Linked DNA regions of Homo sapiens: region 2 is linked to region 1. The links come from fine-mapping of genetic effects on gene expression. A gene starts in region 1. The other region holds a variant in brackets. All regions are shown on one strand. Distances are from middle to middle.

Region 1 (15,980 bases):
TTGGCCAGGTGCTGTGGCTCACACCTGTAATCCCAACACTTTGGGAGGCTGAGGCGGGAGGATCACTTGAGCCCAAGAGTTCAAGACCAGCCTGGGCAACATAGTGAGACTCATCTCTACAAAAAATAAATAATAGAAAGAAAAATGTGAGTTGGCCAGGCATGGTGGCTCATGCCTGTAGTCCCAGCTACTCAGGAGGCTGAGGTGGGAGGATCACTTAAGGCCAGGAGTTCAAGACAAGCTTGGGCAACACAGTGAGACCCTGTCTACAAAAAATAATAATTAGCCAGACGTGGCGATGCATGCCCAGGCTCCCAGCTACTTGGGAGGCTGAGGCAGGAGGATCGCTTGAGCCTGGGAGGTCAAAACTGCAGTGAGCCGGACTGCAACACTGCACTCCAGCCTGGGTGACAGTGTGAGACCCTGTCTCAAAAAAGAAAAAAGAAAAGAAAACTGTGCTCTTAAGAGCCAGTTCTCCACTCCTCTACCTCAGGAGCCACCCCAGAACCCATCCACTTTGAGGACACGAGATCCCAGCCCACTCAGCCCTGGGAGTCCAAAGACATTTTAAACAGAGCCTCTCTTCACATTTATTAATTCCTGGGAGGAATGAGGGAGGCTTCTCCAGCCCCCCAGAGACCCCGGCCTTGTGCTGCAACAGGAGGGGAGGGAGCCAGTCCAGAATCCCCGGCACTTCTGAGGACACCAACAGCACCCTGGGCCCGCGGCTGCATCAGCTTTCTAGACAACGGGAGAAAAGAGAAATGGTGGAGGAGGGGAAATCCTATGCCCTCCTCCTCGCGGAAATCAAGGCCGACCTCCCTGACGCCCCCCCGGAAGGAAGCGCGTGGTCGGCTGCCAGCCGAGACCCCCATCTGCGCCTCCAGCTGCAGGGCCTTTGCTGGGCGGTTCCTCGCCCGCAATTCCCCCACGAGCCCTGGGGAGACCCAGCGCTAACCAGGGGTGCCCAAGGGAGGAGCCGGGAGAGGCCCTCCTGGAGGTGGGCACAGCCCAGGCAAACATCAGCAGACGGAACCAGCACCCGGGACCCAGGGAAACGTCACCTGCCACCAGGAGCTCCACAGGGTCGCTGAGCTCCGATTCGAAGGTGTGGGGCACCCAGGAGCGGTAGCGGCACCTGTAGTTGCCGGCGTGCTGGGGCCCCACGAAGATCAGCTCGAGGTTCGCCGCGGCCCCGGGGGTGCGGACCGTCTTCACGGCCTTCGTCTCGCCCTCGCGCAGCAGCTCGAAGGTGACGTCGGGGATGGGTCCCTCGCAGCGCAGGACGGCATCTCGGCCCGCCAGGACCGCCCCACTCCACGTCGCCCGGAGCTGAGGCCTGGGAGGGGGTCCTGGGCGGAGCGGGCGGGTGGTCGGGCCAGGCCACGCCCCAGGCCACGCCCCAGGCCACACCCCAGGCCACACCCCAGGCCGCGCCCGCGCCTGCGCCTCAGCCCCGGCTTCATCTTCCCTGTCTTGTTCCTGGGCGCAGAGGGCTCCTCCGGCGCCGCCGAGCTGCGCCCGCTGCCTTCACACCCCGGACATCCGCGCCACACGTGAGTGTCCCCGCACCCCTCCCCCAGGACCGTGGAAGTCCCAGATTCGGGCCTGCTCTGGGGCTTCTGGGGTCCCCAGCCTCGGTCACTCTGACGGGTGAAGGGAAGAAGAAATGATGGAGAAAACGGTGCTCCTTCATGGAGGGACCAAAAAAGGACATACAATCTATGTCAATAGATGAGGGTTTTCCCTCCATAAGTTTAACTTTAAAAGTGTATTTAAGGTGCCGGGCGCAGTGGCTCACACCTGTAATCTCAGCACTTTGAGAGGCCGAGGCAGGCGGATTGCCTGAGCTCAGGAGTTCCAGACCAGCCTGGGTAACACGGTGAAACCCCGTCTCTACTAAAATACAAAAAATTAGCCGGGCGTGGCAGCGTGCGCCTGTAATCCCAGCTACTCGGGAGGTGGAGGCAGGAAAATTGCTTGAACCTGGGAGGCAGAGGTTTCAGTGAGCCAAGATTGCGCCACTGCACTCCAGCCCGGGTGACAGAGTGACACTCCGTCTCAAAAACAAACAAACAAAACAAAACTGTAAGGAATCAAATGTTACAAAATCCTGGAAGATTTTGGTAATGCTGTTGATAATTTCAGGGAAATTAATGAAGTACATGTAAGTGCTTGATTTAAATGTGTATTTTATTCAATAGTTTGAGTATCTTGCCATGGAAGATACTAGCCCAGCCTAGCAGAAAAGTGCAATATGTATAATATACTTTCGCATTTTAAAAGTTATATTCCCTATCCATTTTGAAATGCTAGCCAAACTACATGAAGTTATTTGCAATTAATTGTAAGCTAATCAGGAATTTTGAAAGCTTGATTGGATTAACAAACTATAATGTTGAAATTTGGTAAAATCATAATGTTAATTTTTACTGTGAAACGTTTTCTTGTAAGATAGATATACACATCCTAGTTTAATTTTGTGTCTTAGTGTGGATTTACAAATTTACTACAGTTATTCTGAGCCCAGGAACCCAATCAGATTTCAGGCCAGTTTGATACTGGCTGTTCTTAATTCTAACAGGAGAGTAGGACATCATACTAAATGTTATGTCAGTGGGACTGTGTTGTCTTTGGAGCTTAGTAAATTAATCATTTTCTTCAGACTTTAAGGAGAGTGATAAATAAAATTTGGAGTCATAGGATATAGATGTACAATTTAAAGATTAAACATTTTTTTTTTTTTTGAGATGGAGTTTTGCTCTTGTTGCCCAGGCTGGAATGCAGTGGCATGACCTGGACTCACTGCAAACTCCACCTCCCGGGTTAAAGCAATTCTCCTGCCTCAGCCTCCCAAGTGGCTGGGATTACAGGCATGTGCCACCACAGCTGGCTAATTTTGTATTTTTAGTAGAGACAGGGTTTCTCCATGTTGGCCAGGCTGCTCTTGAACTCCTGATTTTGTGATCCACCCGCCTTGGCCTCCCAAAGTGCTGTGATTACAGGCGTGAGCCACCTTGCCTGGCCAAGATTAAACATTTTTCATCAATTGTGGATGGTGGCTTATAACACTGCAAGAATAGGCTGGGCATGGTGACTCACAAGTGTAATCCCAGCACTTTGGGAGGCAGAGGCGGGCAGATCACAAGGTCAGGAGGTCAAGACCAGCCCAGCCAACATAGCAAAACCCGGTCTCTACTAAAAATACGAAAATTAGGTGGGCATGGTGGCATGCGCCTCTAATACCAGCTACTCAGGAGGCTGAGGCAGGAGAACTGCCTGAACCCAGAAGGCGAAAGTTGCAGTGAGCTGAGACTGCACCACTGCACTCCGGCCTGCAAGAATAAAAGTAAGTTATCCAAAAAAAAAACAAAAAGGAGAAGAAAAGGGAGGAATGAAGGAGAGAGATGGGGTTGGGGGGCAGAGATGAGAGAGAGAGAAAGAAGAAAAAAGAAGAAAGAAAAGAGAGAAAGAAGGAAGGAAGAAAGAAAGAAGGAAAGAGAAAGAAAGAAAGAGGAAGGAAGGCAGGAAAGAAAAGAAAGAAAGTGAAAGAAAAGAGAAAACGGTGCTCCCAGCAAAGGGTACGACCTCAAGATCTGGAGGTCAGACCTGTGCCCTCACGCTCTGCTGGGCTCTGAGTCCTGGAGACGTCGATGAGGAAATCAGAGGGACAAACAGAGCTGGGGACGGCGGGGATGGGGAGAAGGACACATCAGCCGTGCGCCTGCGGGACCGGGGCCGGGGCGGGGGGTCCAGTATGACGACTGACATGGCCAGTAATAAAACAAGGCAGCCACAGAGCTGCAGGGATCTGAACAAGAAAACCTGGGGCCAGCCTCCCTGCTGCCGACCACCACGCTACACGTGACCTACGGGCTTGCGTCCGTGGGAAATAAGCCGAAATTCCAGGCGTCCCCAGACCCTCGACCACCGATCGCCTGCTCCCCGCCGGGGTAGGCGATGGGGGCTGAACCAAGGCCCAGAGCGCCGCCGTCGGACGCCCAAGGAAAGAGGGGAAAGACAGGAGGCCCCGAGGGGCACTGAACCCGCGCCCGCCCTCGCTGGTGCCCCGCCAGCTCACCGTCCACGTGCAGCTCCAAGCGCTCGCTGGGCGCGGAGCCCCCGAAAGGCGGCTTCAGGTCCACGTAGACGCAGCTGTAGTTGGCGGAGTCAGCCACGGAAATGTTGTGCAGCTCGAAGAGCGCCTCGGTCCCAGCGGGGCTCTGGAAACGGTGCACGCGGCGCCCGCCCCTGTCCTCGCGCACCAGGGCGAAGCGCGCGCCCTCCAGGGGCGCCAGGCACCGCAGCCGCAAGGCCCTGCCGGACTCCGGCTCCGGGGAGAACTCCGGCGCGGGCAGCGTCTCTGCGGAGCAGCACACGGGCTGACCCGGGCGCCCAGCGGCTGGCTCGGCCCTAACGCGTGGTCTGGCCTCGCGCTCTTTGCCTTGGCTGAGTCTTCTGCCCGCAATGACCTGGCCAGCTTCCTCCCTCGCCTCCTCCGGGCCCGCCCCACCTTTGCATCCCAGTCCTTGGATATCTCACACGCACCCTTTCACTGTTTCTTAGTAATTTGTTTGTCTACAGACACAGACGGGAAGCGGGGACGGGGACATGTTTTGTGCATGGCTTGATGCCTGGTGCACGATGCCGCTCAGTAGTGGATTTGCTCCACGAGCGTCTTCTGAGCACCGCCCCAATGCCCGCCCCACGGAGGGGCCCCTGTGGTCCGCTGGGCATGGGGTTCGCTGTCCGGTGCTCAGAGTTTGCTAAATACCATCAGGTCCAAGGCAAGCGAGCGGAGGAGCTGCCTCAGCAGAGGCCCTCAGTGCTCACCTAGACCTGGCAGCTGGGATGGGACCTGCCAGGTGGTGCCCCCTGTGGCCTGGGCCAGACCTGTTCACCCAGTTATTCCCTGTGGGGCCTGAAGGTTGTCACGCTCATCATCATATTTGCAGTTTAGGACCCTGAATCGGCGGGTGGGCGGATAAAGTTGGTATTGGACCCTGGCCCAGAGCACTGCACTTCCCCAGACTCTACACCTGGTACTGCTCCTGCTCCCCAGGGACCCAGCCGCGTCCCTGTCCCTGCTGGCCCCGGCTCACCATCGCTCAGAATCAGCTCGACCGGCGCGCTGTCCCCGGACCAGCCGTTTTGGTTGTCATGCAGCCGGTAGCGGCAGGTGTAGTGACCTCCATCCCCCAGGGCCACCGCGTTCAGGTGAAAGAAGATGCGATCTGGGCTGGTGCTGCTCCTGGGTACCAGCAGCTCTTTCTCCCCGCGCCGTAGCTGGAAGTCCACTCCACTCAGGGGAGCCACGCAGGTGAGGGTCACCTTGTTGCCAGGGTGCAGGACCTGGGAGGACTCTCCATGGTGCATCAGCACAGGCGGTGGTGGTGCAGCTGCAATGCAGGCAGCATTACTAGGCTGCCCCATCCCTGGAGCTGCCCTCTGCCCAGTCCCCAGACCTCTGCCCTCCGGGTGGCAATCCCAGGAACACCCTTCCATTCTTTTTTTTTTTTTTTTTTGAAACGGAGTTTCGCTCTTGTTGCCCAGGCTGGAGTGCAGTGGCGCCACTCAGCTCACTGCAAGCTCTGCCTCCCAGGTTCAAGGGATTCTCCTGCCTCAGCCTCCTGAGTAGCTGGTACTACAGGCACCTGCCACCACACCTGGCTAATTTTTGTATTTTTAGTAGAGACGGGGTTTCGTCATGTTGGGTAGACTGGTCTCGATCTCTTGACCTCATGATCCGCTGGCCTCAGCCTCCCAAAGTGCTGGGATTATAGGCGTGAGCCACCGCACCCGGCCTCACCCTTCCATTCTTTGGGCATCCTCTGCCCAAACTCCTTTGCAACCATCAGACCCAGGCAACCGTGTGGCCAGCTTCCTGGACCTGGTCCTGGGCAAGGACATTCAGCATGGAGGTCAGGATGAATGTGGTCATGCCCCCTGTATCCTCCTCCCCCAGCAGCCCCCAGAGATGGTTCCCACAGTCACCGAGCTCCTCAATGGTCACAGTAGCGCTGGGCTCAGAGAGGGCGCCTTCCCCATCGGTCCGGTAGCTGCAGCTGTAGTTGCCAGGCTGATGGACTGGAAAGGTGGCCTCCACATCCTCCTGGGCCTCAGGCACCTCCAGAAACTCATGGTCGCCCTCCCGCCTCAGCAGAAAAGTCACACCCCGCAGCACACCTCGGCACACTGCTGTTGTTTTCAGGCCGGGGGTGATCCAGGACACTGGCGCCATCGAGAGCCAGGGAGCAGGCAAGGACTCTGTGGGTGGGGTGGAGTTGAAGAGTGCTTCTGCATAACAGGAGACGTGGGAAGCCCAGCAGAACCTGGGCCCCACACTCATAAGACTGTGAAGGAGACAGGGATGGAGGGCATTGCTGGGAAAAGGCAGGCAGGCACCAGTGGAAACAAGGCATACGGCAAGAGAAAAAGAGTGTGTGGGAGCTGTACGGCATGCCGGGCCTGCTGGGGACACAACCATGTATTCCTTACAACACAGACATCATCCCCATTTGACAGATGGGAAGATTGGGGCTTGGGGCTCAGAGACATCGGGTGACTTGGAGGAAGGGAGACCCCCCAGTCAACAACCTACCCACTGCCTCCTGGCCCCCAATTCATGCCCCGGCTCACTTGGCCCTGTCAGCTCCAGGAGCTTGCTCAGCTGGGTCCATCCTGTGGACAAGCCCGAGCGGCAGCGGTAGCGGCCCTGGGTGTCACCCGTCAGCAGGAACTGGTGCTTGATGGCAGGTGAGTCAAGGTGCACAGGCTCCTGGGCCACCCCATTCTTGAACAGCTGGAAGTCTGGAGTCTCCAGGTGGGCCTGGCACGTCAGCGTCACATTGGCCAAGGGTTTCAGCAGTGATTCGGACTCTGCCCACAGGCTGGGCTGCGTCTCATAAACTGCAAGGGGTGGCTGGGATCAGCTCAGTGCCACAGAGACAGGGCTCCCCCCCGGCCTGGGCCCACCATTCCCAGACCTCACCCCTGCACTCACATATGGCTGCTTCTGTCACTGGGCCCCAGGTGACACCTGCGGAGACAGCCCCCGTAAGGCTCCTGTTCCCGCCCCCTCCCGCCCCAGGGACCCAGACCCCAGGAGGCCTCACCCCACAGCAAGAGAAAGACCACGAGCATGGACATGATGGTCGCGCTCACTCCGGTGCAGTGAGTGTCTGGGGTGAGCGTCTGCAGCAATGAGGCCCCAAGGGAGGGCGGTGGGGTGGCTCGGGCACTGACCTCTTCCCGTGTTTGTCCTTCCCGGAAGGCGGGGGCAGGGCCCCCATGGGGTCAGGGCAAAGGGTGAACTTCTGAGGCCTCAGGATGCCCAGCAACAATTATAATCAATAATCATGTATGATTAATAAACTAAATCAAGAGTGATAAAATGATGTTAAAACCACCTCATCCTCATTTCAGTGATGGATCCTAGAACCTGTTCTAGAAGGAGACGCTGAGTTCTCCCCACTCTACCTGGAGCTGCTGAGGTCAAGTGGAGAGTGCCGGGGCTGAAGCCCAGCGAGCCCCTCCCTGTCACACCACACTGCACATGTGACACCAAAGGTGGGGTTCACCTCTTTTCAGACTTTCTGCGGTTGCCCTCACATGGGCTGTCTGGAGGTGCACCCTCACTCTTCCTGAGGACTGTGGTTCCTTCTCCATCACTGGTTCATTCTGCATGGTGTGACCCACCACGGCTCTGGAGTCGGATTTCCACCCAGGTCATTCAGCTGAGACCTGCGCTTCCCAGGCCTACCCGTGACATGTGCTCAGTTACCTGAGCTGCTGGTGGTCACTCATGTGGCTATAGCCTGCTGCCTGGAGGCCAGGCCTCCCGCTTCCCCTGCCTCCCCCTCTCCTCACCACAGCCTGTTGGGATGGAACAGGACAGGGGTGAGACCGTGGTGCTTTCACACTCAGCCTCCATGGACATCCTGTCATTCCCACCCGGGGAGGTCTGGTCCCCACCCTGGGTGTCCCAGCCTAGCTCCGCTACGAGTGTGAGGGCCCAGGGCAACCGCCTAGCCCTCATCTGCCCCCTGCACTGCATCCTCCCCACTCATTCATTCCACAGGCATTTATTGAGCATCTACTGTGTGCCAGATGCAAAGAAGACAGTGGGATAACTGGGCAAGGAGCATTCCAGGCAGAGGGAACAGCCAGTGCAAACATGGGAGATGCGGGTGCAGTGAGAAGGAGCAGAGGAGACCAGGAGTTGAGGCGACTGCAGAGCGATTGCAGAGCTCATAGACGTGATGAAGACCAGCTGGGCACTGCAGCGGCTCTGGCTTCTGCTGTGAGGGACGGGGAGCTGTGGAGACTCCCTCTGTTTGGTCCCATTTCCATATTGCTGAGCACCTGCTGCATGCTCTCTGTCCTGCTCAGAGCCAGTACCTGGATGGAGGCTGTGTGTTCTGGGTGGACTGGGGGAGAATGCATTCTTTGCAGAAGAGACAACCAGGTGCTGAGGCCTGAAGTCATAACCAGACCTGGGGCACTCAGACAAGGACTGGTGGCCAGGCCAGAGGAGCAGAGCTCAGGGTGTGCACAGAACTCAGAAGTCAGACCACTGAACAGTGACAGAACCTTTCAGCCCATTGGCAATGAGGCTGCCCAGGCAGCCAGAGGCCTGGTCAAATCTGAGGTCTGCAGAGATGGAGCTGTCATTCTGTGTTTCCTTTGGCAGTCCCAACACCAGCCTCGTTGCACCCTCCTCTTAGCTTCCCTGGGTTCTCCAGCCCTAAGGGTGGTAGCAGCTTCCTGCAAGTATCCAGCTCTGAGATTCTGCAACATCCACTTTTGCTCTCTGAGCCTTGCAAAACCTGCACAATCAGTCCCTAACTTATATCCCCTCTGTTTGAAATACCTAGTGTGGTTTCTATTTCCTGACTTGACTCTGACTGGTGTGGTACTTGGTATAAAGAAGGTTCCCTGGCCAGGTGCGGTGGCTCACGCCTATAATCCCAACGCTTTGGGAGGCTGAGGCAGGAGGATCACTTGAGCCCAGGAGTTTTGAGACCCGCCTAGGCAACATGGTGAGACACTGTCCTTACAAAAAATTTTAAAATTAGCCAGGTGTAGTGACGCAAGTCTGTCATCCCAGCTGCTTGGGAGGCTGAGGTGGGAGGATCACCTGAGCCTAAGAAGTCGCGGCTGCAATAAACAGTGATTGCACCACTGCACTCCAGCCTGGGTGACAGAGTGAAACCCTGCCCCCTCCCCCAAAAAAGAAAAGTCCCATGAAACAGACCTACACAGGTGAGATTCTGAGATTGATCTGGTTCTGACCTCGGTCAGGAATGCAGTGCTGAGCTTCTTGCCAACAGAATATGAGACACTAGAAAGCCATAGCATGCGGTTTCATCATGTTTAACTGTCACCTGTGGTTGCCTGAGATGAAGTGCTGACTGAAGCGAGCACCTTAGGAGACACAGTGGCCACTGCACTGAGCAGCTGGTAGCAGCAGTGGTGACCATGTGGACTGGGGGGTGGGTTGGCTGCTTTTGACAGTGCCAGAGAACTCAAAGAAATAGCCACACCTGTCGGAGACCCCAGTTCTTGCCCACCTCTGCATGGACGAACCTCTCGCCGAAGTGGAGCCTGCCGCCCTCCCTGGGGTAAGAGCCCATCCTACATGTCCCCAGACAGGCCTGGGTGGCCGGTGGACTATCGTCAAAGGGACTGTGCAGCCAGGGTTCTCCACACCCAAGGCCGCCCCTGCACTCCCAGCAGGAGGGCGCCCGCACCGGCGGCCCGAAAAAGTCTGGGCCAGCAGACAGCGCACTCACGCCCGAGACCCCGCAATGCCGTGTGTCCGCGACCTCCCGCTCAGGGCGTCCTCGGGTCAGGGCGCAGCGCGGCCCCCGTGCCGCTTCTGGTGCTCGTTGAGGTTGCAACGGTGGCTGAAAGGCTTCCCGCACTCGCCGCAAGCGTAGGGCCTCTCGCCCGTGTGCGTGCGCCGGTGGCTTAAGAGCTCCGACTTGCGCACGAAGGCCTTGCTGCAGTGGGCGCAGACGAACGGCCTCTCGCCAGAGTGCAGGCGCTGGTGCTGGCGCAGCTCGGAGCTGCCGCGGAAGGCCTTGCCGCATTCTGCGCAGGCGAAGGGTCGCTCTCCCGTGTGCGAAAGCCGGTGGTGCGCCAGGCCGGAACTGCCGCGGAAGGCCTTGCCGCAGTCGGCGCAGGCGAAGGGCTTGGCGCCCGAGTGCGTGCGCCGGTGGCTCAGTAGGTTGGAGCGCTGGCTGAAGGCCTTGCCGCACTGGGCGCACGCATGAGGCTTCTCGCCCGTGTGCACGCGCCGGTGCTCCGCCAGGTAGGAGCCCATGACGAAAGCCTGGCCGCACTCGGCGCACTCGAAGGGCCGCTCACCAGTGTGCGTGCGCTGGTGCTGCAGGAGCTGCGAGCTCTCGCGGAAAGCCTTTCCGCACTCGGCGCAGGGGAAGGGCTTCTCGCTGCTGTGCGTGCGCCGGTGCTGCCGCAGCCCCGCCACACGCACGAAGGCCTTGCCGCAGTCGGGACAGGCGTGTGGCCGTGCGCCCGCGTGGATCTTCAGGTGCTCGGCCAGGTTGGAGCTCTGGCTGAAGGCCTTGCCACAGTCCCGGCAGGCGTGCGGCCGCGCGCCCGTGTGCACGCGCCGGTGCTCCAGGAAATTGGAGTTCCAGCTGAAGGCCTTGCCGCACTCCGGGCACTCGTAGGGCTTCTCGCCCGTGTGCGTGCGTCGGTGCTGCACCAGCGTGGTGCTTCGGCCGAAGGACTTGCCGCAGTCCGGGCAGCGGAAGGGCTTCAGGCCGCTGTGTGTCTCCTGGTGGTGGATGAGCTGCGAGTGCGCGCGGAAGGCCTTGCCGCACTCCCTGCAAGCGTAGGGCTTCTCGCCGCTGTGGATGCGCTGGTGCTGGCTGAGGTTGGAGCTCCAGGCGAAGGCCTTGCCGCACTCGGGGCACGTGTACGGCTTCTCGCCTGTGTGCACGCGCCGATGCTGCAGCAAGTAAGAGCCCTGGCTGAACGCCTTGCCGCACTCCCCGCACCGGCAGCCCGGCTCCTCTGGGAGAGGCGAAGGGCGCAACGCCCGGTCTGCAGGCTCGCTCCTGGGCCCAGCCCCGTCCCGCCCACCGTCTGCGGGGCCCAGCTCCCTGCCGGGGCCTCCCTGTTCGTCCGCCGCCCCCAGTGTGGCTTGCTGCCGCTGGCCGTCCCCTGCCTCCCTCGGAACCTCCGTGGAGTTTTCCCAGGCCCCCCAGCCTCCAGACACAGCCCCCTCAGAGAGGCCCCTCGTGGCAGTCTTCACATTGCAGAGGACCTGGCCTTCCTCTGGGGCCACCTGCAGGGTCCACCCTCTTGGGGACTCCATCTCGCGCCTGTGACCTAAAACAGGAGAGAAAAGGCAAGTACCTTAGAGAATACAAAGAACACCAGACAGAGGGCCTGAGGGGGACACGACGGTGGGTGGGCTGTCATCCCCCACTCTTCTCCTCCAGGTCCCTGGATGCCCAATGCCCTCTGGAGCCTGGAGCAGGAAGGCCAGCAGGCGGGCTAGACACTCGGGGGATGGGCCAGCACTCTGGGCCTGCCTGACAGGGCCACGTGCACATCCCCACACCCGGCCCGGCCCAGCAGGAGGGGAGGGGGCGCCAGCATCGCAGAAGGACTCAAAGTTGCCCACGCACCTGCACTGGCCCTACTGTGGCACCACTCTCCTCTCCTTGCTTCACAGGGTGGGGCCCCAAGTGTCAAGAAGGTGGAGACTCCAGTTTGTGAGGAACACGATGGACCCGTCTCCATTCCTGAAGGCTGGAGGACACCGCCTGACCCAAACACAGCTATGTCTGCCTCACCCACTCCACCCTGGCCGGATCCCTGGGTAGTCCCCTCCACACAGTATGGGCAGCATGTCCAGGCTGGAGGATCTCAGTGGCTGTTACCCAGGCAATGTCCACACCAGGCCTCTGTGCAGGTCAGACCAGGTGGTCCAAGGCATGGGGTGGCTGTGCAGCCCAGATCCCTGAGAGAGAGAGAGGCCAAGGGTGGGAGGGCCTCCTTGGTCCTAAGGCCATGCCTGCCTGTCCAGCCGATCCTTCCCACAGCGAAGTCTCTACAGCGAGCAAAACCCATCCTCATTTGCCCTGAGCACCTTATCATCCTTGTGTAGTCTCCAGCCCCGCTGCCAAGGCAGGGCAGGGACAAGTGTGTAGATGGTGCCATACCTGGAGGTGGGGCCTGGAAGGGGCCCAGGGGAGCCTCTTGCTCCTCTCCCTCCTCTGTCCTGGGGACCAGCTCCTCTTGGGGCCTGGGGGCTGGCACCTGGGGACAGGAAGGCAGCAGGGCAGGGTGAGGTGTTCAGCCTAGCAGATCTGAGAAAACAAGGGGCATGCGGTGGCATGACCCACCCTTCTCTGCACCTTCAGTTCTCAGGACACAATGCGGAGCACACAGGTGTGGACTGGAGATCTCTGACTCTGCCGTCCAAGCCAAGACCACCAAACTCCCACCTGTCACCATCACTTTCCCACAGCCCCCAGGCCCTCTCAGCCACCAACCCACGACTGGCCCCAGTGCTGGCTCAGCTGGGGTCGTGAGCAGGGGAAGCACACCCAGCCCCCAGACCAGCCCCCACTCATCTGGAGTCCTGGCCCAGCTGACTCCTGCTGTAGCCGCTCTGCCAGGGCAGTGGCCTCCTCAGGGCTGCCTAGCCACTGCTCCTGCGTGTAGGCCTGGATCTCTGGGAGCAGTGTGCCCAATAACTGCTCCAGCACCAAGAGCTCCAGCATCTGCTCCTTGGAGCAGGCCTCAGGCATCAGCCACTGGCAACACAGCTCACGCAGCTGAGCCAGGGCCCCTCGGGGCCCTGCTGCCTTCTCATAGCAGAACCCCCAGAAGCACTGGCCAGGGCTCTTGGAGCTGGGCTCACCCACCATCAGTTCCAGTGGACTCGGGAAGACCTGGGGGGCCAGGGCTGATGCCTCACTCATCTGGGCAGCCATCCTGCCCCTTTCCTGGGAGGGGAGTGCAGCTGCATGGCCCAGGGTACTTTCTCTGCAGCTGGAAACACAAAGGTGAGCCTGTGAGCACAGCAAGGCCACGAAGGTCCCCTCCTTGGGACCACCTGAGACTGAGTAAAAATGGAAGAATGGGGGTATCGGCGTTTCTGGCCCCCAGTGTCAGCATCTTTGCCCACCTGTGTGTCCAGGTGCCTGAGGGACACACTGAGGTGCCATGGCTGCTTGTACCATCCCTTCCCCCCGCCTCCCCGCTTTTCTTGAGGGTCCCTGCCCTGCCCTGTCTCCTTGGCACCCTTCATCCCACACACAGAACAACTAAGACAGAGACTGTGAACAGGACACCCAGAGTCAGACCAGCAGATGGGTCCTGTTTGTCCCCTCCAGGAAGTGTTTTAAAAATTTAAGTTAGGCCAAGTGCGGTGGCTGACGGCTGTAGTCCTAGCACTTTGGGAGGCCGAGGTGGGTGGATCACGAGGTCAGCAATTCCAAGACCAGCCTGGCCAACATGGTGAAACCCCGTCTCTACTAAAAATACAAAAATTAGCCAGGCGTGGTGGCAGGCGCCTGTAATCCCAGCTACTCGGGAGGCTGAGGCAGAGAACTGCTTGAACCCGGGAGGTGGAGGTTGCAGTGAGCCGAGATCGCGCCACTGCACTCCAGCCTGGGTGACAAAGTGAGACTCTGTCTCAAAAAAAAAAAAAAGAGAATAAATACTGATACATACTACAAGATGGATGAATCTTGAAAATATTATGCTAAGTGTAAATGAAAAAATTCAGACACAAAAGACTTCATATTATGTTATTCCATTTATGTGAAATGTCCAGAACAGATAAGTCTGTAAGAGACAGAAAGTAGATCAGCGGTTGCCAGGATCTGCAGGGAAGAGAGAAATGGGAGATACAGCCGTGGGAGTGATGAAAATATTCTGGAATTAGTGGTGATGACTGTGCAACACTGAATATACCAAAAACCACTGAATTACACACTTTAAAAGGATGAATTGTATGGTATTTATGTTTTTTAAAAAAGTTACCACCCAATCCCAAAAGCTTAAAAACTGTATGACTCCATTTCTTTTTCTTTTTCTTTTTTTTTTTCTTTTGACAGGGTCTGGCTCTGTCATCCAGGCTAGGGTGCAGTGGTGCAATCTCATCTCCCAGGCTCAAGCCATCTTCCCACCTCAGCCTCCGAAGGAGCTGGGACATCAAGTGCGTGCCACCATACCCAGCTAATTTTTTTATTTTTTATTTTTCTATTTTTGAGACGGAGTTTCGCTCTTTCACCCAGGCTGGAATGAAGTGGCGCAATCTCGGCTCACTGCAACCTCTGCCCCCAGGATTCAAGCGATTCTCCTGCCTCAGCCTCCCCAGTAGCTGGGATTACAGATGCCTGCCATCAGGCCTGGCTTATTTTATTTTATTTTATTTTATTTTTTAGTAGAGATGGGGTTTCACCATGTTGGCCAGGCTGGTCCCGAACTCTTTTTTTTTTTTTTTTTTTTTTTTTTTTTTTTTGAGAAGAGTCTTGCTCTGTCGCCCAGGCTGGAGTCCAGTGGCGCTATCCTGGCTCACTGCAAGCTCTGCCTCCCGGGTTCATACCATTCTCCTGCCTCAGCCTCCCAAGTAGCTGGGACTACAGGCGCCTGCCACCATGCCCGGCTAATTTTTTTATATTTTTGGTAGAGCCGGGGTTTCACCGTGTTAGCCAGGATGGTCTCGATCTCCTGACCTCGTGATCCGCCCGCCTCAGCCTCCCAAAGTGCTGGGATTACAGGCGTGAGCCACGGCACCCGGCCGGTGGGCCGGTCCTGAACTCTTGACCTCAGATGGTCCACCCGCCTCGGCCTCCCAAAGTGCTAGTATTACAGGCGCGAGACACCTCGCCCAGCCTATGCAACATTCGTAAAATGACAAAATGGTAGAAATGAGAACAGATTACTAGTTGACAAAAAGAGGTTAACGGGGAGCAGAGGTAGGAGGGAAGGGTATGCGGCTCTGTAAGGGCAACACGGGGATCCTTCGTGATGGAAATATTCTGCATCTCAGTTGTGATATTGTACTCTAGTTTTTCTTTCTCTTCTCTTTTTTTGAGACAGAGTCTCGCTCTGTTGCCCAGGTTGGAGTGCAGTGGCGTGATGTGGGCTCACCGCGACCTCCGCCTCCTGGGTACAAGCGATTCTCCTGCCTGAGACTCCCGAGTAGCTGGGATTACAGGCACCAGCCTCCACACCCGCCTAATTTTTGTGTTTTCAGTACAGATGGGGTTTCACCATGTTGCTCAGGCTGGTCTTTAACTCCTGAGCTCAAGGGATCCACCCGCCTTGGCCTCCCAAAGTGCTGGGATTACAGACATGAGCCACCGCACCTGGCCTCTAGTTTTTCAAGATGCCACCTTTAGGGGAATTGGGTAAAGCGTACATAGGGTATGCATTACTTGTTACTGCATGTGAATTTATAATTACCTCAAATCAAAAGTTAAATTTTAAAAAAACGACATCTGATTTCAATAAAAATCCATATTTGTGTATTGAAGTATCAGAAATCCGGGTCCCCCAAGGGCCCATGTTTCTTAAGGCGGAGCCAGGCACCGCTGCCCCTCCATCCTGTGGTGTGCGACCCCGACCCGCCAGCCCCCAGCCGCATCTATCAGGGCTGCCGTCCTGAGTCCGTCCTCGTCGTGGGATAGCATGTGAGCCCCGTAAGGTCCTTCCTGTCGGCCTCACTGCTCCAGCCTCCCCGACGTCCTCACGTCCACGCTGCGTGCCCTTTCTGAGCCTCAACGCCTCCTCCTCACCTCGACATGATCAGAGCCACCTCCCGCGTCAGTCCCAGCGCCCACGCCCCCAACAACGGGCACTTGTCCGACCAGTCACGGGTACTTGTGTCTCCCCCACAACCCCCAAGGCCTAGGCTGGACAAACAAATACGGAGTGGATAAAGGGGAGGAAGCTGCGGCCAGGTGGCGCGAGGCCTGTGCGGGCAG
Region 2 (11,599 bases), 23 kb before region 1:
CACACACACGCAGAGTAAGCACACAGAACAACCCACAAACCTGGTCACAGAGTGACTCATGCAGACAGACGCCCAGCTCAAATTCAGTAAAAAATGATACACATTTATAAAAATGATTACATGTGTTCACAGAGAGCCACACATAGCTACACTCAATACACACCCTGACATAGGCAACCACACCGCTCACCTCTCACAAAGGCACCTTCAGTACTTACACAGACACTCACACCCACAAGCCCTCAGACAGGCACCCTCTCCCCTCACTCCTAACATGGGCACCCTCACCTCTCACCCAGGTACCCTTGTTACTGGTGGAGGGTGTCCAGGTTCTTGGCATCTTGAACAAATAATTGGACAAAATGCACAAAGAAAAGAATGAAGCAACAAAAGCAGAGATGTATTGAAAATGAAAGTACACTCCACTGTATGGGAGCAGGCCGGAGCATAGGGGCTCAAGAGCCCGGTTACAGAATTTTCTGGGGTTTAAATACCCTCTAGAGGTTTCCATTGGTTACTTGGTATATGCCCTATGTAAATGAAGAGGACGAAGTAAAGTTACAAAGTGATTTACTCCATGTACGCCCTGCATAAATGGAGAGGATATTTCCTACCATAGCTGCAGTTTCCATTTGATTTACTTCTAGGAAGTCCTTAGGTTCCCTGCCTCCAGACCCGATTTTCTTGCCTCACCCTTACCCCTCACCCCTCACACAAACACCCTCAGCCCTCCCAAAGCCACCCTCAGCCTCACACAGCCGCCCTCACCCTCAGCCTCACACAGGCACCCTCAGCTCTCACACAGGCACCCTCAGCCCTCACACAGCCGCCCTCACCCTCAGCCTCACACAGGCACCCTCAGCCTCACACAGGCACCCTCAGCTCTCACACAGGCACCCTCAGCCCTCAGCCCTCACACAGCCGCCCTCACCCTCACCCTCACACAGGCACCCTCAGCCTCACACAGGCACTCTCACCCTCAGCCTTCACATTTCCCTCACCTCCAAGTCCCGCCTTTCGCGCATCGCCTGCTGCTCTCCCACTCAGCGCCACCTCAGTCCCACAAAGGCCGGGCTGGGATCCTGTGGCCTCCGTGCTGACCAACGTCAACTACAATTCCCAGCAGGCACCGCGCCTGGGTACACTTGAGCTTCCGGAGGACGCCGGGAATTGTAGTCCTGGCGGGCGTGGGCCCTTGAGGTGTGCTGGGAGCTGTGGTCCGGGTCGGCGGGCGCGCAAGTTGGCTAGTCTCTGCGGCCACCTCCGGAAGGGTCCGCCGGCTGTGCTGGTGAGGTGGGTTTCGGGGGTGTTCTCCGTCCTGATCCAGGCTGGAGAGGGGCACAGCAGGTCCAGAAGCCGCGAACCTCTGGGGCGGCCAGAGCGAGATGCGGGGTACCGCCCAGCGGGTAGAGAGTGAGAGGCTGACTAGGGGACGTGAGTAGACGGACTGCGAGTGCCGGACACACGCGCAGAGGATGTGACGGACTGACGGACCAGGCGTGGACGGACCGTGTGTGCACGGACTGACGGACCCGGTGTGGACAGACTCACGGACCGAATGTGGTGCGGAATGACACACTGAGTGCCGGACGGACCGACGGAGAATGTGTCGGACTGACGGAGTGTGTGTCGGATGGACTGATTGACCGGGTGTGGGGCGGACGAAGTGTGGAGCGGGCGGACAGATAACAGATAAAATGTAGGACCAGTGGCCTGGGAGGGTGTGGGGCGGACCCGTTTATGTGTCTGATAGGCGGTTCTGTGTCTGACACCTCTTGGGTGTGTGTATCTGACGGGTTGGAGTGTGTGATTCTGATAGGTTGAGTGTAACACTAACCATGGAGTGTGTGACTGACAGAGATGGTTGCCGTTTGAGACTTCCTACGTGGGTTGTGAGATACTGTGAGAGGGTGAGCGTGTGACGGTGGGATTTCAAGTGTGACTGATTTTCTTTGTGTGTCCTTGAGATGGTGACTAAGATTATGAATGACTGTGATCAGAATAATACTGTGTGATGGAAATGCTGCGAGGGCCTGTGTTTATTTTTGAGACGGAGTCTTGCTCTGTTGCCCAGGCTGGAGTGCAGTGGCGCAATCTCGGCTCACTGCAACCTCCATCTCCCGGGTTCAAGCGATTATCCTGCGTCAGCCTCCCGAGTAGCTGGGATTACAGGCACCGGCCACCACACTTGGCTAATTTTTGTATTTTTGGTAGAGACGGGCTTTCACCATGTTGGTTAGGCTGGCCCGGAACTCCTGACCTCAGGTGATCCACCTGCCTAGGCCTCCCAAAGTGCTGGGATTATAGGCATGAGCCACCATGCCTGGCCAGGCCTGTGTTTATTTGACTGATTATAGGTGACATTGAGATATTTCCTGTGTCTGGGTATTTTGAAGGCTGTGGCTGACAGACTGTACCTGAGATAATATGTGTTAATATCTGATTGACTGAGATTTTTATCAGGGAGACTAAAACTTGGGTGATCCACAAACAGTTTACCAAGCATATGAGAGAGGATTTGTGCTTTGCCATGTCTGCAGCTGAAACTGAGTGACTAGTGGTCATTCAGCTGGGCTTATGGATATGTCCCCCAGTGTTTGCTTACGTGTAGCAGGGGGCTATGGTATCCATACATCTACTGCATGTTTACTGTGCACCAGGCCTGTGCTGGACACTTATAATAAATCACCTCACATAATCTCATAGCAACCCTCTGAGGTAGGTACCATTATCAGGCTTGGTATAATCCATGTGTGAGAAATGAAAAGAACCACCCTCCTTGGTTGGTAAAGCAGCTGTGGATGGGGAACCTCAACCTGATAGGAGTTGAGGTTGGCTGAGGAGGCTGAGGAAGTTTCACATACATGTATTTCAGAGACCGTCATGAGGGATTTCTCCAGAACAGGTGTTCCAGGGGTGCAAAAGAGAACTTGGAAGCTGTTGCAGCATCTATTGTCATCCCTGCCACCCTTGCTCCTCCTTCCCCTCATGATTCCCTACATTCTTGGGTAACCATGCTCAGCCTTTACTGGTCATTCCATTTGCTTAATGCCTGCTTATTGTGAACCTGCTATAGGGCAAGTCCTGTGTGCTGTGGCTCCAGGACAGCCCAGCCTCTCTGAGGAAACAGTACAGAACTAGCAAAGAGTTACCCAGGGCACTCTGGGAAGAGGACTTAGACTAGTACCAGGTATCTGGGATGACACCTGAGGAAAGTGGCAGCTAAGATGAGGCCTAGAGAGCCCAGAGGAATCCGTCAGAGACGGATTTCAGAACTCGAGA[G/A]CAGCAGGGGCGACAAGGGGCTTAGAAAGGCCACAAGAGACCCAGGAGAACTTTACAGTGCGGCGAAGGGGCTTAAACGCAGCTTGGCCAGAGGCCACCAGAGGTCACCAGCGGTCACCAAAAGGTTTCAGGATTGGGGTCTTGTTTTAGAGTAACGTTCTCTTCTTCCTGTGCCCAAGGCCATTGCTCTTTCTCAGGCCTCCTGCATCTCTGTCCAGGGTGACTTCCTTGAGCAGAGACTCCAGGCACACTGAGCGTCCTGGCTGACATTGAAGGAAAGGAAAAAGAACTCCAAATACTTAAAACTGTGGGAGTCGTGGATGGGAGAGGGAGAGGCTAAGTCTTTGAGTAAGGAGTAGTATGTGGCCAAAGCAAAGTGTCGAGGTCTCCTAGGAGAGGTTACACTTAATTTAGGGTATTCTTCCTGACTATAAGAGAAAACAAATTCACTGTGGGAAGTAGAGAATGTCAAGAAAAGTAATACAGTAGTCACCCCTCATCTTCAGTTTTGGTGAATATAGTACAATAAAATATTTTGAGAGAGAGAGAAAGACCACATTAATATAGCTTTTATTACAGTGTATTGTTATAATTGTTCTATTTTATTAGTCATTGTTGTTAATTTCTTACTATGCCTAACTTATGAACTTTATCAAGGGTATATAATAAGAAAAAAATATAGAATATATAAGGTTCAGTAATATCCATGGTTTCAGGCATCCACTGGAGGGTCTTGGAACACATCCCCTGCAGATAAGGGGGAACTACCATAGTATAAAATACCTTGGTAAGGATGTAGAGAAATTGGAACCCTCATCCACAACTGGTGGGAATGCAAAATGGTATAGCCAATTTGCAAAACAGCCTGGCAGTTTCTTAAAAAGTTAAGCATTGCCTACATGCGGCCAGGCGCAGTGGCTCATGCCTGTAATCCCAGCAATTTGGGAGGCTGAGGTGGGCGGAACATGAGGTCAGGAGATCGAGACCATCGTGGCTAATACGGTGAAACCCCGTCTCTACTAAAAGTACAAAAAAAAATAGCTGGGTGTGGTGGTGGGTGCCTGTAGTCCCAGCTACTCGGGAGGCTGAGGCAGGAGAATGGCGTGAACCCAGGAGGCAGAGCTTGCAGTGAGCCAAGATTGCGCCACTGCACTCCAGCCTGGGCGACAAAGCAAGACTCCGTCTGGAGAAAAAAAGAATTTTTTCAAAAAGAAAGTATTATCTCCCTCTGAATGTCGGTAGCACCCCCATCTAGAAATGGGGCTAGATTCTGAGAAGTAGAATTAATATTGAGGCAGAGAGCACAGTCATTTTAAAGCTCTTACAACATACTGCCAAATTGTTTGCCAAAGATATTCTAATTGATTGCCCTCACCAATAGTACATGAAAGTAGTTTTTTGCTGTCCCTGACCAGCATTCAGTGCTCACAGTTCTAGAATTTGGAAAGGCTTTGAGTGTGGAGGAAAGATCGCAGATAGCCTGAGCTCAAACACTAGCTTTGTTCCTACTGACCAGATGACTCTAGCAGCTGACTTTCCCCAACTTGGAAAATGGGAGTGGTAATACTGACTCACAGGGTGGAGCTAAGGCTTGAATGGGATAACAGATGCCAAAGGCTAGTGTGGCCTGGTAGCCGGTAGGTTCCCACTGACTGTCTGTTCCCATTTTCTTTTATTCCTGTTGCACACTATACCCATATCCATCATCATAATTATCTTATCATGTGTTGGTCGCTGTCCTTCCGTTGAGGCCATTGAGCCCAGCACCCATGCCTTCCCCGTATTTGCATTCCTAGTACAGTGCTGGGCACAGAGTAGGCACCTAATGGGGCTGTGCTGAACAAAAGTATTATTATTGATGTATGTGCCCAGCAATGCTGTAGACACTGGGGATAAAGCAAAGACCTAAACAAAAACCCCTGCCCTTAATGTGCTGATACTCCAACAGGGACAAGTAAATAATAAACAAGTAACCACATACGTGTATCACACATCAGGTGGTAAAGAGCAAATAAAGCAGTGTAGAAGCACAGAGACTTACTGATAAGGCGTCTTTTGTGTAGAGGCCTGACTTAAATAAGGGAGAGAACACCCAACAATTATCAAATGCACTTTTTTTTTTTTTTTTTTTGAGACAGAATCTCACTCTGTCGGCCAGGCTGGAGTGCAGTGGCACAATCTCTGCTCACTGCAACCTCCACCTCCCGGGTTCAAGCAATTCTCCTGTCTCAGCCTCCCAAGTAGCTGGGATTACAGGCCCCCGCTGCCACGCCTGTCTAGTTTTCATATTTTTAGTAGAGATGGGGTTTCGCCATGCTGGCCAGGCTGGTCTTGAATTCCTGACCTTGTGATCCACCTGCCTCAGCCTCCCAAAGTGCTGGGATTACAGGTGTGAGCCACCGCGTCCAGCTGACGTTATTATTATTATTATTATTATTATTATTATTATTATTATTATTATTTTGAGATGGAGTCTCTGTTGCCAGGCTGGAGTGCAGTGGCGTGATCTCGGCTCACTGCAATCTCCACCTCCCGGGTTCAAGAGATTCTCCTGCCTCAGCCTCCTAAGTAGCTGGGACTACAGGCACACGCCACCACGCCCAGCTAATTTTTTTGTATTTTTAATAGAGACGGGGTTTAATCATGTTGGCCAGGATGGTCTCGATCTCTTGACCTTGTGATCGGCCCAGCTTGGCCTCCCAAAGTGTTGGGATTACAGGCATGAGCCACCGTGCCTGGCCAACATTATTTTTTTAAAAGCTGTATTTTTATTTTATTTTATTTTTTGAGATGGAGTTTCACTCTTGTTGCCCAGGCTGGAGTGCAATGGCAGAATCTCGGCTTACTGCAGCCTCCACCTTCCAGGTTAAAGGGTTTCTTCTGCCTCAGCCTCCCAAGTAGCTGGGATTACAGGCATGCACCACCACGCCCGGCTGATTTTGTATTTTTAGTATAGATGGGGTTTCTCCATATTGGTCAGGCTGGTCTTGAACTCCTGACCTCGTGATCTACTCGCCTCGGTCTCCCAGAGTGCTGGGATTACAGGCGTGAGCCACCGCGCCTGGCCTCCAGAACATTTTTATCATCCCCAAAAGAAATTCCCAAACCTATTAGCAACCACTCTCATTTTTGTCTCTCTTCAGCCTCTGACAAACACTAATATGCTTTTTTTTTTTTTTTTTTTTTTTGAGATGGAGTCTACCTCTGTCGCCAAGGCTGTAGTGCAGTGGTGTACTCTCGGCTCACTGCAACCTCTGCCTCCCAAGTTCAAGAGATTCTCCTGCCTCAGCCTCCTGAGTAGTTGGGATTACAGGTGCCTGCCACCACACCCAGCTAATTTTTGTATTTTTTAGTAGAGACGGGGTTTCACTGTGTTGGCCAGGCTGGTCTTGAACTCCTGACCTCAGGTGATCTACCCACCTCGGCCTCCCAAAGTGCTGGGATCACAGGTGTGAGCCACCGTGCCCTGCCGTGTCTTTCTTCTTTTACTTAGCATCATGTTTTCAAGGTTCATCCATGTTGTAGCATTAATCAGTACTTCATTTCTGTTTATGGTGAATAGTGTTCCATTATAGGTATATACAGCATTTTATCCATTCATCAGGTGGACATTTGGATTGTTTCTCCTTTTTTGCTGTTATGAGTAATGCTGTTATGCACATTTATGTATAAAGTTTTGTGAGGACATATACTCATTTCTCTTGGGTCTATACGTAGGAGTAGAATTGCTAGGTCATGGGGTAACTCTGTTTAAGCTTTTGAGGAACTCCCAGACTGTACTTCCCACAGTGGCTATCCCATCTTACATTCCCAGCAGCAGCATATGAGGATTACAGTTTCTCCATATCCTTGCCTACACATGTTATCTGATTATAGGCATCCCAGCAGGTGTGAAGTGCTATCTCATTGTGGTTTTCATTTGCAGTTCCCTGGTAGCTAGTGATGTTAAGCATCTTTTCATGTATTTATTGCCCATTTGTGTATCTTCCTTGGAGAAATGTCTAGTCACATTCTTTGCTCATTTTAAAATTGTATTATTCATCTTTTTACTATGGAGTTGTTCTAGATACAGGTCCCTTATCAAATATATGATTTGCAAATATTTTCTCCCACTCTGTGGGCTGCTTTTTTACTTTCTTGATGTGGTCCTTCAAATCACAAAAGCTTTTAATTTTGATAAAGTCCAGTTTATTTATTTTTTCTTTTGTTACTTATGCTTTTGGTGTCATAGCTAAGACAGCTTTGCATTATTTTCAAGTATTCATGGAACATTAACCAAAATTAACCATACACTGGGTCACAAACCAAGTTTCAGCAAATTTTAAATGATCGAAATCCATTGTAGCATGTTTTCTGACCACAACAGACTTAATCTAGACATCAGTAATAAAAAGACAACTAGAAAACCCCCAGTTGTTTGGCAATGAAGCAGGAGAGTTTTAAATAAATAACCAATGGGACTGGGCATGGTGACTCATGCTTGTAATCCCAGCACTCTGTGGGGCCGAGGCAGGCAGATCGCTTGAGGTCAGGAGTTCGAGACCAGCCCCGCCAACATGGCAAAACCCCGTCTCCACTAAAAATACAAAAATTAGCCTCACATGGTGGTGCACACCTGTAGTTCCAGCTACTTGGGAGGCTGAGGCAGGAGGATTGCTTGAACCCGGGAGGCGGAGTTGCAGTGAGCCGAGATAGCGTCACTGCCCTCCAGCCTGGGCGACAGAGGGAGACTCCGTCTCAAAAAAATAAAATAAATTTTAAAAAATAATTAATGAGTAAGGTAGAAATTGTAACAGAAATTAGAAAATATTTTTAACTAAATGATAATGAAGATACAACATATCAAACTTGTGATGTATAGCTAAAGCTGTGTTTAGAGAGAAATTTATAGCCTTAAATATGTGCATTAGAAAAGAGGAAAGGCGAAAGTCAATTATGTATCAATCTCAAACACTACAAAATAATTAGCAAGTAAAGTGAGAGAATGACCATGTGGCTACCTGGGGAACAGAGGGAGAAAGACTTGGCTCTGTTGGGGAGGAGCACGCCTTAAACAGGCTGGCTGTAGGTTTGCGTGGGTTTGTAGCTTAGCTCTCTGTTAACCCTTCACTAGCTGAGGGACTTTGGGCAAATATTTTCCTCCTGAGTGTCTGTTTTTCCATCCATAAAATAGGTAGAAAGTCCCACCTCCTGAGTTTGTTGTAAGTTTTTTGTTTGTTTGTTTTTGTTTTGAGACAGAGTCTTGTTCTGTTGCGCAGGCTGGAGTGCAGTGGCGTAGTCTCGGCTCACTGCAAGCTCCGCCTCCCGGGTTCACGCCATTCTCCTGCCTCAGCCTCCTGAGTAGCTGGGACCACAGGTGCCCGCCACCACGTCTGGCTAATTTGTTTTGTATTTTTAGTAGAGACGGGGTTTCACCATGTTAGCCAGGATGGTGTTTGTTGTAAGTTTTAAATGAGTCTACATGCAAGCAGTAGTAGCTTAGAACAGTGCTCAGCACCAAGTGGGTGCTGTCCTAATTATGAGGATTGTCTATGTCTTTGTGAGAGTCTTTCACATCTCACGGGCCACAAGCCTGTGTTTTCCCTGCTCTGTAGGCATGAGGCAGGGCCCAGGTTCCATGTGATGCTGAAGCTCTGACATTCCTGCAGGCCCAGTTCCAAGGCTCCGGCATCCTGTGTCTCACTGAGCACTGCTGCCCGATGGCCATCCCCAAGCACTCCCTGAGCCCAGTGCCGTGGGAAGAGGACAGCTTCCTTCAAGTGAAGGTGGAGGAGGAAGAGGAAGCCAGCCTCTCCCAGGGCGGAGAATCCAGCCATGACCACATTGCTCACTCTGAGGCTGCACGCCTGCGCTTCCGGCACTTCCGCTATGAGGAGGCATCTGGTCCACACGAGGCCCTGGCCCACCTCCGAGCGCTGTGCTGTCAGTGGCTGCAGCCCGAGGCGCACTCCAAGGAGCAGATACTGGAGCTGCTGGTGCTGGAGCAGTTCCTGGGTGCGCTGCCCCCAGAGATCCAAGCCTGGGTGGGAGCCCAGAGTCCCAAGAGCGGAGAGGAAGCCGCTGTGCTGGTGGAGGATCTGACTCAGGTGCTGGACAAGAGAGGTAAAGGGGCGCCGTGGGCAGCTTCACGGCACACCAGAGATACACCCTGGACAGGAACATGGGAGCACAGGGCTCTGGTTTGGGGTTGCTCATGCACCCATTCTCACATTTGTACTTTACCGTAACTCTCACACACTGTTGTAGACAGGTGTGTTTTGGTTGCAGGTGACCAAAAGCGAGCTGAAATGGGCTGAAGCAAAGAAGGGTAAGGAGGCAGCAGATACGGCTATATCCAGAAGATCTGTTGACAGCATCAGAACTCTCTTCTTCCTCTCTTGTTCTGTTTCTCAGTTGGTTTTTTCTGTGTTAGCTTCATTCTTATTTTAGGTTCTCTTTCCAAAGGGGTTAAAGATAGCCAGGAACCCCAGGCTTATGTCTTACCAATGTAGAAACCCCGGGGTAATAACAATAAGAGGTCCCTGGTCTGAGCCCCCACTGGCCTGGTTGGGATCTTATGTTTGTGTTTGGCCAACCAAATCCCAGGGACTAACAGTGAGCAACTGGCTGTTTCTCAGAGGAAACCAGACGAGGGCCTGGGTGCCTGGGGTGGCTGTTGGGGGTGACGGAAATACCAGATGTCCCTGTGTACCTTCTCTATGCCCACCCTGGGCTGGCCTCCAGGATTTGGGTGGGTCAGACCTGCCCCAGGCTCAGCTGGGCACTGTTACTCACAGAGACCCACACAAACATCCCAACCCAGGGAGGTCCAGTGGGATGCAGGGAAGACCCAGCCTTGGGACAATCCAGAGCAGGGAGTGGTGGCTCGTCTCAGATGGGCTTGGCCTGGCCTATTGGCAACAGATAGGAGGTGGGCATACCACACACTGGGAGGAAACGTGCAGTGTGCAGGAGGAATGTGGAGTCTGGATACAGCTGCATCATCAAGGCTCAGTAGATCCAACCGCTGCTGCTCTTCCTGGCCATGTGACTCCCTTGTGCCTCAGTTTACTCATGGGTAAAATGGGGATTGTAATAAAAACGCCCACCTTAGTGGTGTTGCGAGATACAAGGCAATACCCGTGCAGCACCTGAAATGGTGCCTGGCACAGATTAAATAAATGGTAACTGCAACTGTTAGGATAATTTGTTCAGCTCTGGGAGAAACAGGCCTCTCTGGAACAGAGGTTGGTCTATGCCCAAGCAGATGTCACAGAGACAGGGAGAGGAAGGAGGGAGTGGCCCCATCCTCCCACAGGGTTGGCCAAAGCTCAGAGAAAGGGTAAAATGCAGAGGGAATGGTGGGGTCAAAGGCCTGGCAGTGTGATTTGCACTGGTGTATTCTGGTAAAAGCAGGTGGTGTGATGTTTCTGGATAGAGGAAGGAAGGGGGAGACAGGGCCAAGCAGATGGCTGGGGGAGCAGGGGAGACTGCCTGTGGACCTGGAGGAGAACATTCTGGAGCTGAAATCCCAACTGGGCCACTAGCTAACTGTGATCCTGTACCAGTTACTCAACACCTTCCCTCAGCTGGATTTCAGTTTCCCCATCTGCAACAGAATCACAGCAGTACCTCCTTCTGAGAGCAGGTCGAAGCTGAAATGAGGCGATGGAAGTCACCCACTGTGCTTGGGGCCCAGCACGACAAGAGCCTGATAGTGGTTAGTGGCCCTGGAAGGCCAGCGGCACAGCATCCATGGCTTACAGATGGGGAGACTGAGTCCCAGATGAGGGCAGGACTGATTAAGGTGGTAGACCTGGGGTTTGAGTCCAGTTTCTGCACTGCTGAGCCCCACTGTGGACTTGAGCAGTGGGTATTCCACCTGTCTCTGCCTCCTCCCTGGAATCCATCCAGTAGATGTGCCAGATTATGTGTCCTTTGCACCCATGCAGGGCAGGTCAGTGCGAGCATTCCTCTACCTCATGCACACTCTGATCTCCAAGAGCACCTCCGCCACACTCTGCCTTCATAGTACTTTACAATGTAGGGGCTTGAGAGGCCAGATGGGTACCTCATGTACTCACCCCCAGCAGCCATATTCTACCTGGGGTTCTACTTGCAGAAATTTTCACCATCGTGGGCTTCTGGATGGATTCCCTCATTCAGCCAGAATTCACTGAGCACCTGTGGACACATCCAGGCCTAGAGGCAAGGTGTTGAGTGTGAGGGACAGAACCGCAACCTCACAGAGATCAGAGCCTGCAGGGGACACATCCAGGCCTAGACGCAAGGCGTTGAGTGTGAGGGACAGAACTCCAACCCCACAGAGATCAGAGCC

What was found.
Region 2: its variant is fine-mapped to the expression of A1BG in whole blood (TOPMed, PIP above 0.99).

Annotation. Positions count from the first base shown.
Region 1 is chr19:58,346,289-58,362,268 of GRCh38, forward strand. It overlaps A1BG (alpha-1-B glycoprotein), which reads right to left and starts at 7,204. Exons shown (of 8, transcript NM_130786.4): 1 at 7,116-7,204; 2 at 7,004-7,039; 3 at 6,640-6,909; 4 at 5,995-6,267; 5 at 5,103-5,399; 6 at 4,082-4,363; 7 at 1,065-1,352; 8 at 1-741. The coding sequence starts at 7,149. The coding sequence ends at 734. It overlaps ZNF497 (zinc finger protein 497), which reads right to left. Exons shown (of 3, transcript NM_198458.3): 2 at 12,201-12,297; 3 at 8,069-11,361. The coding sequence starts at 11,347. The coding sequence ends at 9,851. It overlaps A1BG-AS1 (A1BG antisense RNA 1), which reads left to right and starts at 5,682. Exons shown (of 4, transcript NR_015380.2): 1 at 5,682-6,756; 2 at 7,091-7,186; 3 at 7,426-7,569; 4 at 8,081-8,895. It also overlaps the pseudogene LOC100419840. RefSeq lists enhancers at 506-1,006, 674-953, 1,007-1,507, 1,724-1,803, 15,750-15,980 and a silencer at 1,204-1,533.
Region 2 is chr19:58,325,822-58,337,420 of GRCh38, forward strand. ZSCAN22 (zinc finger and SCAN domain containing 22) reads left to right here and starts at 1,173. Exons shown (of 3, transcript NM_181846.3): 1 at 1,173-1,293; 2 at 8,931-9,384. The coding sequence starts at 8,982. LOC105372480 (a long non-coding RNA gene) reads right to left here and starts at 1,427. Exons shown (of 3, transcript NR_144444.1): 1 at 1,002-1,427. It overlaps MIR6806 (microRNA 6806), which reads left to right and starts at 8,867; the gene lies at 8,867-8,930. RefSeq lists enhancers at 1,058-1,800, 1,144-1,473. The variant G/A (reference allele first, on the strand shown) is at 3,283.